Linked DNA regions of Homo sapiens: region 1 is linked to region 2. The links come from fine-mapping of genetic effects on gene expression. A gene starts in region 2. The other region holds a variant in brackets. All regions are shown on one strand. Distances are from middle to middle.

Evidence for each region. PIP is the estimated chance that this variant, and not a neighbour inherited with it, causes the effect.
Region 1: its variant is the best candidate, but not a certain one, in a credible set for the expression of RINL in whole blood (TOPMed, PIP 0.55).

Annotation. Positions count from the first base shown.
Region 1 is chr19:38,793,617-38,798,987 of GRCh38, reverse strand. It overlaps the pseudogene RNU6-140P. Among named protein-coding and RNA genes, the nearest start is that of LGALS7B, 7.1 kb to the right of the region's middle. RefSeq lists an enhancer at 991-1,905. The variant T/C (reference allele first, on the strand shown) is at 2,454.
Region 2 is chr19:38,875,197-38,880,567 of GRCh38, reverse strand. It overlaps RINL (Ras and Rab interactor like), which reads left to right and starts at 2,293. Exons shown (of 12, transcript NM_001195833.2): 1 at 2,293-2,336; 2 at 3,787-3,875; 3 at 4,078-4,237. The coding sequence starts at 3,826. SIRT2 (sirtuin 2) reads left to right here. Exons shown (of 16, transcript NM_012237.4): 14 at 866-936; 15 at 1,068-1,134; 16 at 1,258-2,008. The coding sequence ends at 1,413. RefSeq lists enhancers at 1,657-1,756, 1,797-1,916 and a silencer at 2,457-2,506.

The DNA of each region.
Region 1 (5,371 bases), 82 kb after region 2:
AAGCCAGATGTAGCAAACATCTGTAGTTCCAGCTGCTAGGGAGGCTGAGGCAGGAGGTTGGCTTGTGCCCAGGAGTTCAACGCTGCCGTGAACCATAATCAGGCCACTGCACTCTAGTCTGGACAACAGAGCAAAACTCTGTTTCTAAAAAAATACAAAATAGCTCCCTCCCCCTCCCCCTCCCCCTCTCCCTCTCCTCTTTCCACGGTCTCCCTCTGGACTGTGCTGCTGCCATCTCGGCTCACTGCAACCTCCCTGCCTGATTCTCCTGCCTCAGCCTGCCGAGTGCCTGCGATTGCAGGCGCGCGCCGCCACGCCTGACTGGTTTTCGTATTTTTTTGGTGGAGACGGGGTTTCGCTGTGTTGGCCGGGCTGGTCTCCAGCTCCTAACCGCGAGTGATCCGCCAGCCTCGGCCTCCCGAGGTGCCGGGATTGCAGACGGAGTCTCGTTAACTCAGTGCTCAATGGTGCCCAGGCTGGAGTGCAGTGGCGTGATCTCAGCTACAACCTCCACCTCCCAGCCGCCTGCCTTGGCCTCCCAAAGTGCCAAGAGTGCAGCCTCTGCCCGGCCGCTACCCCGTCTGGGAAGTGAGGTGCGTCTCTGCCTGGCCGCCCATCATCTGGGACGTGAGGAGTCCCTCTGCCTGGCTGCCCAGTCTGGAAAGTGAGGAGCGTCTCTGCCCGGCCGCCATCTCACCTAGGAAGTGAGGAGCACCTCTTCCCGGCCACCATCCCATCTAGGAAGTGAGGAGCGTCTCTGCCCGGCCGCCCATCGTCTGAGATGTGGGGAGCGCCTCTGCCCCGCCGCCCCGTCTGGGAGGTGAGGAGCGTCTCTGCCCGGCCGCCCCGTCTGAGAAGGGAGGAGACCCTCCGCCTGGCAACCGCCCCATCTGAGAAGTGAGGAGCCCCTCCGCCCGGCTGCCACCCTGTCTGGGAAGTGAGGAGCGTCTCCGCCCGGCAGCCACCCCGTCCGGAAGGGAGGTGGGGGGGTCAGCCCCCCGCCCGGCCAGCCGCCCCGGCCAGCCACCCCGTCTGGGAGGTGAGGGGCGCCTCTGCCCGGCCGCCCCTACTGGGAAGTGAGGAGCCCCTCTGCCCGGCCAGCCGCCCCGTCCGGGAGGGAGGTGGGGGAGTCAGCCCCCTGCCCAGCCAGCCGCCCCGTCCGGGAGGGAGGTGGGGGGGTCAGCCCCCCGCCAGGCGAGACGCCCCGTCCGGGAGGGAGGTGGGGGGTCAGCCCCCTGCCCGGCCAGCCGCCCGGTCCGGGAGGTGAGGGGCGCCTCTGCCCGGCCGCCCCTACTGGGAAGTGAGGAGCCCCTCTGCCCGGCCACCACCCCGTCTGGGAGGTGTACCCAACAGCTCATTGAGAACGGGCCATGATGACAATGGCAGTTTTGCGGAATAGAAAAGGGGGAAAGGTGGGGAAAAGATTGAGAAATCGGATGGTTGCTGTGTCTGTGTAGAAAGAAGTAGACATGGGAGACTTTTCATTTTGTTCTGTACTAAGAAAAATTCTTCTGCCTTGGGATCCTGTTGATCTATGACCTTACCCCCAACCCTGTGCTCTCTGAAACATGTGCTGTGTCCACTCAGGGTTAAATGGATTAAGGGCGGTGCAAGATGTGCTTTGTTAAACAGATGCTTGAAGGCAGCATGCTCGTTAAGAGTCATCACCATTCCCTAATCTCAAGTACCCAGGGACACACACACTCTGCCTAGGAAAACCAGAGACCTTTGTTCACTTGTTTATCTGCTGACCTTCCCTCCACTATTGTCCTGTGACCCTGCCAAATCCCCCCTCTGCGAGAAACACCCAAGAATGATCAATAAAAAAAAAATACAAAAATACAAAAATACAAAATATTAAAATAAAATAAAGAAATAGTGCTCGCTTCAGCAGCACATATACTAAAATCTGGAATGATGCAGAGAAGATTAGCATGGCCCCTGCGCAAGGATGACATGCAAATTTGTGAAGTGTTCCATATTTTTTGGCCAGGTGTGGTGGCTCACGCATGTAATCCCAACACTTTGGGAGGCCGAGGCAGGCGAATCACAAGGTCAGGAATTTTTGAGACTAGCCTGGCCAACGTGGTGAAACTCTGTCTCTACCAAAAATACAAAAAATTAGCCGGGCATAGTGGTGGGTGCCTGTAATCCCAGCTACTCGGGAGGCTGGGGCAGGAGAATCGCTTGAACCTGGGAGGCAGAGGTTGCAGTGAGCCGAGATCGCGCCACTGCACTCCAGCCTGGCAACAGAGTGAGACTCCTCTCAAAAAAAAAAAAAAAAAGAAGAAGAAGAAAAGAAAAAAAGAAGATGGTGATGGATGGATAGAAGGGTGGATAGATGGATCTATGTGTGATAAAGCAAGTTGAGTAAAATGTTATATAGAATCTGGTTAGGGTATATGAGGTATTCATAGAATAATTCTTTTAACTTTTCTGCATGTCTGAAAAAA[T/C]TCATAATAAAATGTTGGGGGAAACCTTTGCATACAAACTTTGCAAACATTGTATCATACAATGATATGAACTGTAAATTTTTTAGGAGTTAGAATGGTAATGAGGTTTTGTTTAAAAAGAGAGCCTGCCAGGCGTGGTGGCAGATGCCTGTAATCCTAGCTACTTGGGAGGCTAAGGTGGGAAGACTGTTTGAACCTGGGAGTTTGAGACCAGCCTGGGCAGCATAGTGAGACCCCATCTCAAAAATAAAAATTAAAAAATAAATATCATTTAGAATTATACACATATTTATGGATAAGATTATATAACACCTTTTAAAAATCCAATTTAAAATGGGCAGAAAATTTCGATAAACATTTCTGCAAAGAAGATATATAAACGGCAACCCATGTCATTAGGGAAATGCAAATCAAAACCACATGACATATCTCTTCACCAAGTGGTGAAGCCAACCTATTAGGATGGCTATAATAAAAAAGACAGATAGGTCAGGTGTGGTGGCTCATGCCTGTAATCCCAGCACTTTGGGAGGCCGGGGTGGGAGGATCACTTGAGGCTAAGAGTTCAGGACCAGCCTGGGCAACATAGCAAGAACCTGTCTCTACAAAAAATTTTTAAAAATTAGCCAAGCATGGGGACGCACACCTATAGTTCCAACTAATTGGGAGGCCTGAGGTAGGAGAATTGCTTGAGCCCAGGAGGTGGAGGCTGCAGTGAGCCATGATTTCACCACTGCACTCCAGCCTACACAACAGAACAAGACCCTGTCTCAAAAAAAAAAAAAAGACAATAACAAGTGTTGGAGAGAACATGGAGAAATAGGAACACATATGTTGCTGATGGTAATGTAAAATGTTACAGTTACTTTGGAAAATGGTTTGGCAGTTCTTTGAAACGGAACTTAAAAGAGTCATGTGACCCAGGAATTCTTTTTTTTTTTTTCTTTTTTGAGACGGAGTTTCGCTCTTGATGCCCAGACTGGAGTGCAGTGGTGCGATCTCGGCTCGCTGAAACCTCCACCTCCTGGGTTCAAGCGATTCTCCTGCCTCAGTCTCCCAAGTAGCTGGGATTACAGGCATGCACCACCACGCCCGGTTAATTTTGTATTTTTAGTAGAGATGGGGCTTTTCCATGTTGATCAGGCTGGTCTCGAACTCCTGACCTCAGGTGATCCATCTGCCTTGGCCTCCCAAAGTGGTGGAATTACAGGCATGAGCCACAGCACCTGGCCTGACCCAGAAATTCTCCTAGGTACTTACCCAAGAGACATGAAAACATGTTCACACAATAGGTTCATAGCAGCATTATTCATAATAGCCAAGATGTAGGAACAACCCAGATATCCATTATTCACCATGATGAATGGGTAAACGCGTATATTCGATCCACACATTGGAACAGCATTCAGCCATGAAAAGGAATGAAGTGCTGATGCATGCTATGACATGGACAAACCCTGAAAACATGATGCTCCGTGGAAGAAGCCAGATATACAGGGCCACATATTGTATGATTCCACGTGTGGAAAACAAGCAGATTCATAAATCCATACAGCTGGAAAGTAGGTTAGTGATTGCCAGGTGCTGGGGGAGGGGCAAGTTGGGGAGTGACTGCTTATGGGTATGGGGTTTCTTTTAGTTGTTCTTTTTTGTTTTGTTTTGTTTCTGAAACAGGGTTTCACTCTGTTGCTCAAGCTGGAGTGCAGTGGAGCGATCACGGCTCTCTGCAGCCTCGACCTCTCCAGCTCAAGCCATCCTCCTAGCTCAGCCTCCCGAGTAACTGGGACCACAGGTGTGTACCACCATGCCCAGCTAAAATTATTTTTTGTAGAGATGAGGTCTCCCTATATTTCCCAGGTTGTTTTTTTTTTTTTTTTTTTTTTTTTTTGACACAGAGCTTTGCTCTGTCACCCAGGCTGGAGTGCAATGGTGCTATCTGCTCACTGCAGCCTCCGCCTACCGGGTTCAAGCAATTCTCCTGCCTCAGCCTCCCACGTAGCTGGGATTACAGGTGCGTGCCACCACGCCTGGCTAATTTTTTGTATTTTGAGTAGAGATGTGGTTTTGCCATGTTGGCCAGGCTAGTCTCGAGCTCCTGAGCTCAAGTGATCCGCCCATCTCAGCCTCCCAAAGTGCTGAGATTACAAGTGTGAGCCACAGCGCCCGGCCTCAGGCTGGTCTTGAACTCCTGGGCTCAATCAATCCTTCCGCTTCAGGCTCCCAAAGTGCTGGGATTACATCTGTGAGCCAAGGTCTTTTGAGATGATAAAAATGTTCTAAAATTAGATTGTGTTGATGGATGCACAACCTTGTGAATATACTGAAAAACATTGACTTGTATACTTTGAATGGGTGACTTGTATAGCATATGAGTTATATGTCAATAGAGCTGTTACAGAAAGATCCAGGAGGATGGGGAGGAGAGAAGGGAAGCTGAATCATAAATTCTAAATTTCTTTGAAGACAAACTTAATAAAGAAGGATTTAGGTTGGGCACCATGGCTCACACCTGTAATCCCAGCACTCTGGGAAGCCTCGGTGGGAGGATCGCTTGAGCTCAGGAGTTTGAGTCCAGGAGTTCAAGACCAGCCTGGGCAACATAGCAAGACCCTGGCTCTACAAACACCCGCCCCCCCCAAAAAAATTAGCCTGGCACCATGGCACGTGCCTGTAGTCTCAGCTACTTGGGGGGCTGAGGTGGGAGGATGGCTTCAGCCTGGGAGGTTGAGGCTGCAGTAAGCCCTTATCCACAACTCCACTCAGCCTGGGCAACAGAGCAAGACCCTGCCTCAACAAAAAAAATTTTTTATTTAAAAATTTTTGATGAACTGTTACCGATGGAGGGTGTCCAGGTGCTTGGTCTCTTGAATGAAGAATTGGGCAAAACGCACAAAGCAAGGAAATAATGAAGCAACAAA
Region 2 (5,371 bases):
TGGGGCTCTAGAATCCAGAGGGGTCGGGTTCCAGGCCTCTGGGACATTCACTGCCCTTTTGAGCAAGTGATAGAATTCCAACTCAAACCAGCTGAAGCCAGATAGGAAGGCCGGGCTTCCAGGGACTGAGGAGGTGGGAGGGGGTGCAGGGGTCAGGAGAGACAGTGCGGGGGGCGGGGTTGGGTCCACGCTCTGGGTCTCTCAGGTCTGTTTTTCCTGGGCAGCCTCACTCTAGGGCAGGTGCTCCCTCCTAGGTGTTCCCCTCAGGGGAAGTAGGCAGGGTCACCGGGCAAGCAGCGCACGCTGTGGGCAGACACTGTCCCAAGTCTTAGCCTGCGTGAACTCACTGGCGCCACAACCCCATCGCGGTTTTGTGATCACCCCTATTCTACAGGAAACTAAGACACAGAGAGGACAAGTCACTTGACCAAAGTCACTGAGCTGGCTGGGCGCAATGGCTCACGCCTGTAATTCCAGCACTTTGGGAGGCCGAGGCGGGTGGATCACCTGAGGTCAGGAGTTCGAGACCAGCCTGACCAACATGGTGAAACCCCGTCTCTACTAATAATACAAAATTAGCCGGGCATGGTGCTGGGCACCTGTCATCCAGGCTACTCGGGAGGTTGAGGCGGGAGAATCACTTGAACCCAGGAGGTGGAGGTTGCAGTGAGCCGAGATCACATCATTGCACTCCAGCCTGGGCAACAAGAGTGAAACTTTGTCTCAAAAAAAACCAAAAAAACAACAACAAAAAAAAAACAAAGTCACAGAGCTAGGATACAAACCCAGGCCACCTGGCTCCAGGGTCTGTGCTCTTAGCTCTCCCTTCCCTGCTCCTGCCCCTGACCCACCCCCTCCCTGACAGTCGGACCCTTTCCTGGGGATGATTATGGGCCTCGGAGGAGGCATGGACTTTGACTCCAAGAAGGCCTACAGGTGAGGCCCCGCCGGGGGTTGGGGCAGCCTGGAAGGGACAGGGTGAGGTGGGAGCGGGGGCACGAAGGCAGATGAGAGGAGCAGGCAGGGGCGAGCCCGCCTGGGAACTCTGATCTCCTGCTGCACCGCAGGGACGTGGCCTGGCTGGGTGAATGCGACCAGGGCTGCCTGGCCCTTGCTGAGCTCCTTGGATGGAAGGTGAGGAGCTGAGCAACCCCAGCCTGTCCTGAGCCCCATCCCTGGACCCTCTCCCCACCCCATGGGTCCTCTGACCCCATGATGCACAGTGACCTTTGACTTCTGTGACCTTTGCTCCTGCAGAAGGAGCTGGAGGACCTTGTCCGGAGGGAGCACGCCAGCATAGATGCCCAGTCGGGGGCGGGGGTCCCCAACCCCAGCACTTCAGCTTCCCCCAAGAAGTCCCCGCCACCTGCCAAGGACGAGGCCAGGACAACAGAGAGGGAGAAACCCCAGTGACAGCTGCATCTCCCAGGCGGGATGCCGAGCTCCTCAGGGACAGCTGAGCCCCAACCGGGCCTGGCCCCCTCTTAACCAGCAGTTCTTGTCTGGGGAGCTCAGAACATCCCCCAATCTCTTACAGCTCCCTCCCCAAAACTGGGGTCCCAGCAACCCTGGCCCCCAACCCCAGCAAATCTCTAACACCTCCTAGAGGCCAAGGCTTAAACAGGCATCTCTACCAGCCCCACTGTCTCTAACCACTCCTGGGCTAAGGAGTAACCTCCCTCATCTCTAACTGCCCCCACGGGGCCAGGGCTACCCCAGAACTTTTAACTCTTCCAGGACAGGGAGCTTCGGGCCCCCACTCTGTCTCCTGCCCCCGGGGGCCTGTGGCTAAGTAAACCATACCTAACCTACCCCAGTGTGGGTGTGGGCCTCTGAATATAACCCACACCCAGCGTAGGGGGAGTCTGAGCCGGGAGGGCTCCCGAGTCTCTGCCTTCAGCTCCCAAAGTGGGTGGTGGGCCCCCTTCACGTGGGACCCACTTCCCATGCTGGATGGGCAGAAGACATTGCTTATTGGAGACAAATTAAAAACAAAAACAACTAACAATCCGGTCTGGCCTCCTGTTTCTTTCTGTGGGCACCCAGGGAAATCTCTGAAGGGAGGGGGTTAGATCTTGGGCCACTAAGGAACCAGAAAGTCTCCGGGATCCAGAGTGAGGGGTAACAAGAGGGTCCTCACGGGGGCCCTCGTGGCTCTGACCCCTGGACTCCCAGCCTGCCAGTGTCCCTTCCTCTAAGCCCCGTCACTAAAGGCCTGAGGCCCCAGAAAGAGGGAGGAAAGTTGACTTCAGATACCCCAGCCCCGCCTCTTCCCCCTGCCTGCTCAGCTTCCTCTCTCCACTTCCTGCTACTGCAGGCCTCTCCTCCGAGAACAGGTAGGGCCCCCAGGAACCGAGCATCTGGCATCTTCAGCCCCTGCTGCCTCCCTTTGGTATGAGGCAGCTGCCCTGACCCACCCCTGCCACGCACTGCCCACAGCCTCCTCTCCTGCCACGGTACACAAGCAGGCATCTGCTTCCCTCTCCCCTCCCCTCCCCTCCCTTCCTTCCTGCTCTTGCCTGGGCAGGGCACCTGCGCCTCCCTGCCCACCTCCCTCCTTCCTAATAACACCCTGGCCTTCTGGTCAATGGCCTAATGTATTTGTTTAGCTGCCTATTATCCATATGCTACACCTGCCCCAAACAAGAATGGAAGGCCCTGAGGGGAGGAGCCTGTCCTGTTCATCACCCTCTCTCCAGGGCAGAGGCACCTAATTCCAGCCTGTATTCAGTAAATACTGGATGGATGGAAGGAAGGAAGGAAGGGAGGGAGGGAGGGAGGGAGGATGGATCCTCCCCCGATCCAGGTCTCCTGCTCCTGGGACTGCTGCTGGGATAAGTGCCACCCTAAGTGATAACCTACGTAGGACTCTGTACCTGGTTAGGAGCTGGGGCCTGATGGGTGGATGAAGAGAGAGAGGAACAGATGTGTGATAAAGCAAGATGAGTAAAATGTTCATGGTAGAATCTTGGTAGTGGGCATAGGGATGTTTCCTGTACAATTCTTTCAGCTTTTCTCTATGTCTGAAATTTTTCATAATAAAATGCTGGGGGAAGAGATTCAGTGGCCCCTCCATGGTGTGGGAAGGGAGGAAGAGGGGATGTTATTACCTTTCCAGATATAGGGACTGCCTACTCTGGGCCAAGAACTTTTCCAGGCGCTGACTGGGTTTTGCCAAGGGCTGGCCCACATTTACACAGCCCCCATGGCTGTTAAAAATCTTAACATATTTCCTACCACTTCAGTAAAGAGCTATTGTTTTGAGTCCTCTCCCCACACCGCAAGACACACTGGCCTCTCTCCTGGGATCCCCAGATTCCCCACCATCCGGTACTAAAGATTTAACCCCTGCCGGCCGGGTGTGGTGGCTCATGCCTGTAATCTCAGCACTTTGGGAGGCCGAGGCGGGGGGATCACTTGAGGTCAGGAGTTTGAGACCAGCCTGGGTAACACGTCAAAACCTTGTCTCTACTAAAAAATACAAAAATTACCCAGGCGTGGTGGTGCACGCCTGTAATCCCAACTACTCGGGAGACTGAGGCACAAGAATCGCTTGAACCTACGAGGCGGAGGTTGCAGTGAGCTGAGATCGTGCCACTGCACTGCAGTCTGGGCAATACAGTGAGACTCCGTCTCAAAAATAAAATAAAGAATTAACCCCTGCCACGGCAAGCGGCCTCTGGGGTCCATTCTGATTGGTCAGGGTCTCTGCCATATTGATTGTAAATATCTTGAACATGACCCGAGGGCTAGAGCAGCTTTGAGTCTTACCTTTCTCCCTGCCAGAGGCCAGGTCATGACTCACTGGCTTCCTGCAACCTGACGATGGCCCAGCCAGAAGACAAGGCACCTGAAGTCCCCACAGAGGGGGTGAGGTGAGGCTACTAGGGCTGAGGCTATGCCCTCCTTCCCCTGCATCCAGAAACCCTTTCCATCCAATACCTCCCTCACTACAGAATCCTGAATCACATCTCTGAGCCTCTGCCCTGGGCCTGCCCCTTCCTGTACCTTTGACCTCACCTCATTGTCCCACTGCCCACCTCTGACCCCTGACTCCCTGGACACTGTCCATCCCAGGCTGGTCCCACCACAGGTGAACAAAGCAGACAGGACCCCTCTAGGGGTCCTCAGCACCCTAGAGCCACTTACTCGCCTGCAGAGGACATGGGGGGTGTGGCATGTGCCAGAGCTGGATACCCAGGATGCGGAGGCCCTTGTGGGGCTGTGGCCACTAGGGGTGAGTACTCACAGCTGGGGGCCCATCCTGACACCCTAGATTAGGACTCTGCTGGTTACTAGTGACAAACATGACACAAATTGGGCAAACCAAAAAGGCTATTTATTGCTGGGTGCAATGGCTCATGCCTGCAGTCCTAGCTACTCATGAGGCTGAGGTGGGAGGATCATTTGAGCTCAGGAGGTCAAGGCGGCAGTGAGCTGAGATCATGCCACTTCACTTGAGCCTGGGTGATGGAGCAAGACCCTGTCTAAAAAAAAAAAAAAAAAAATGTAATTTCAAGAAGCTCTGGATCCTGAACTTCAGAACACTTATAAATTCCTCTTCATCCCATTTCTTGGCTTTGCTTTCAACTGCGGGGAATTTTGGATATTTGGGACTGAATATAACAAACACCTGTCCTACAGCGGTTTAAACAAATAGGCATTTATCTTCCTAACATAACCAAAAAGGCAGCTGCTGGCTTTAGATCAGCAGTGCAGTGACATTGAGGCCAGCATAGCTATAATTCTCTTGGACTTCTCTCACAGCTTCCCGGGGGCTGCCCCAGGCCCAAGCACCTGCGTGCATTCCAGGCAGGAAGAACAGAGGCACCACTTGCATCTGTTTATTTTACAGGAAAAATAAAGGTTTTCTTTTCTTTTTTTTTTTAATTTTGAGAGTTTCACTCTTGTTGCCCAGGCTGGAGTGCAATGGCATGATCTCGGCACACTGCAACTTCCGCCTCCCAGGTTCAAGCGATTCTCCTGCCTCAGCCTCCTGAGTAGCTGGGATTACAGGCATCTGCCACAACGCCCGGCTAATTTTTTGTATTTTTAGTAGAGATGGGATTTCACCATGTTGGCCAAGCTGGTCTCAAACTCCTGACGTCAGGTGATCCACCCACCTCTGCCTCCCAAAGTGCTGGGATTACAGGTGTGAACCACCGTCCCCGGCCAAAATAAAGGTTTTCACAACTGATTCAGAAAATATAGATGGCTGGCCGGGTGTGCTGACTCACGCCTGTAATCCCAGCATTTTGGGAGGCTGAGGTAGGAGGCTCGCTTAAGCCTAGGAGTTCAAGACCAGCCTGGGCAACAGAGCAAGGCCCAGTCTCTATTAAAAAAAAAAAAAAAAGAAAAAAGAAAAAAAAAA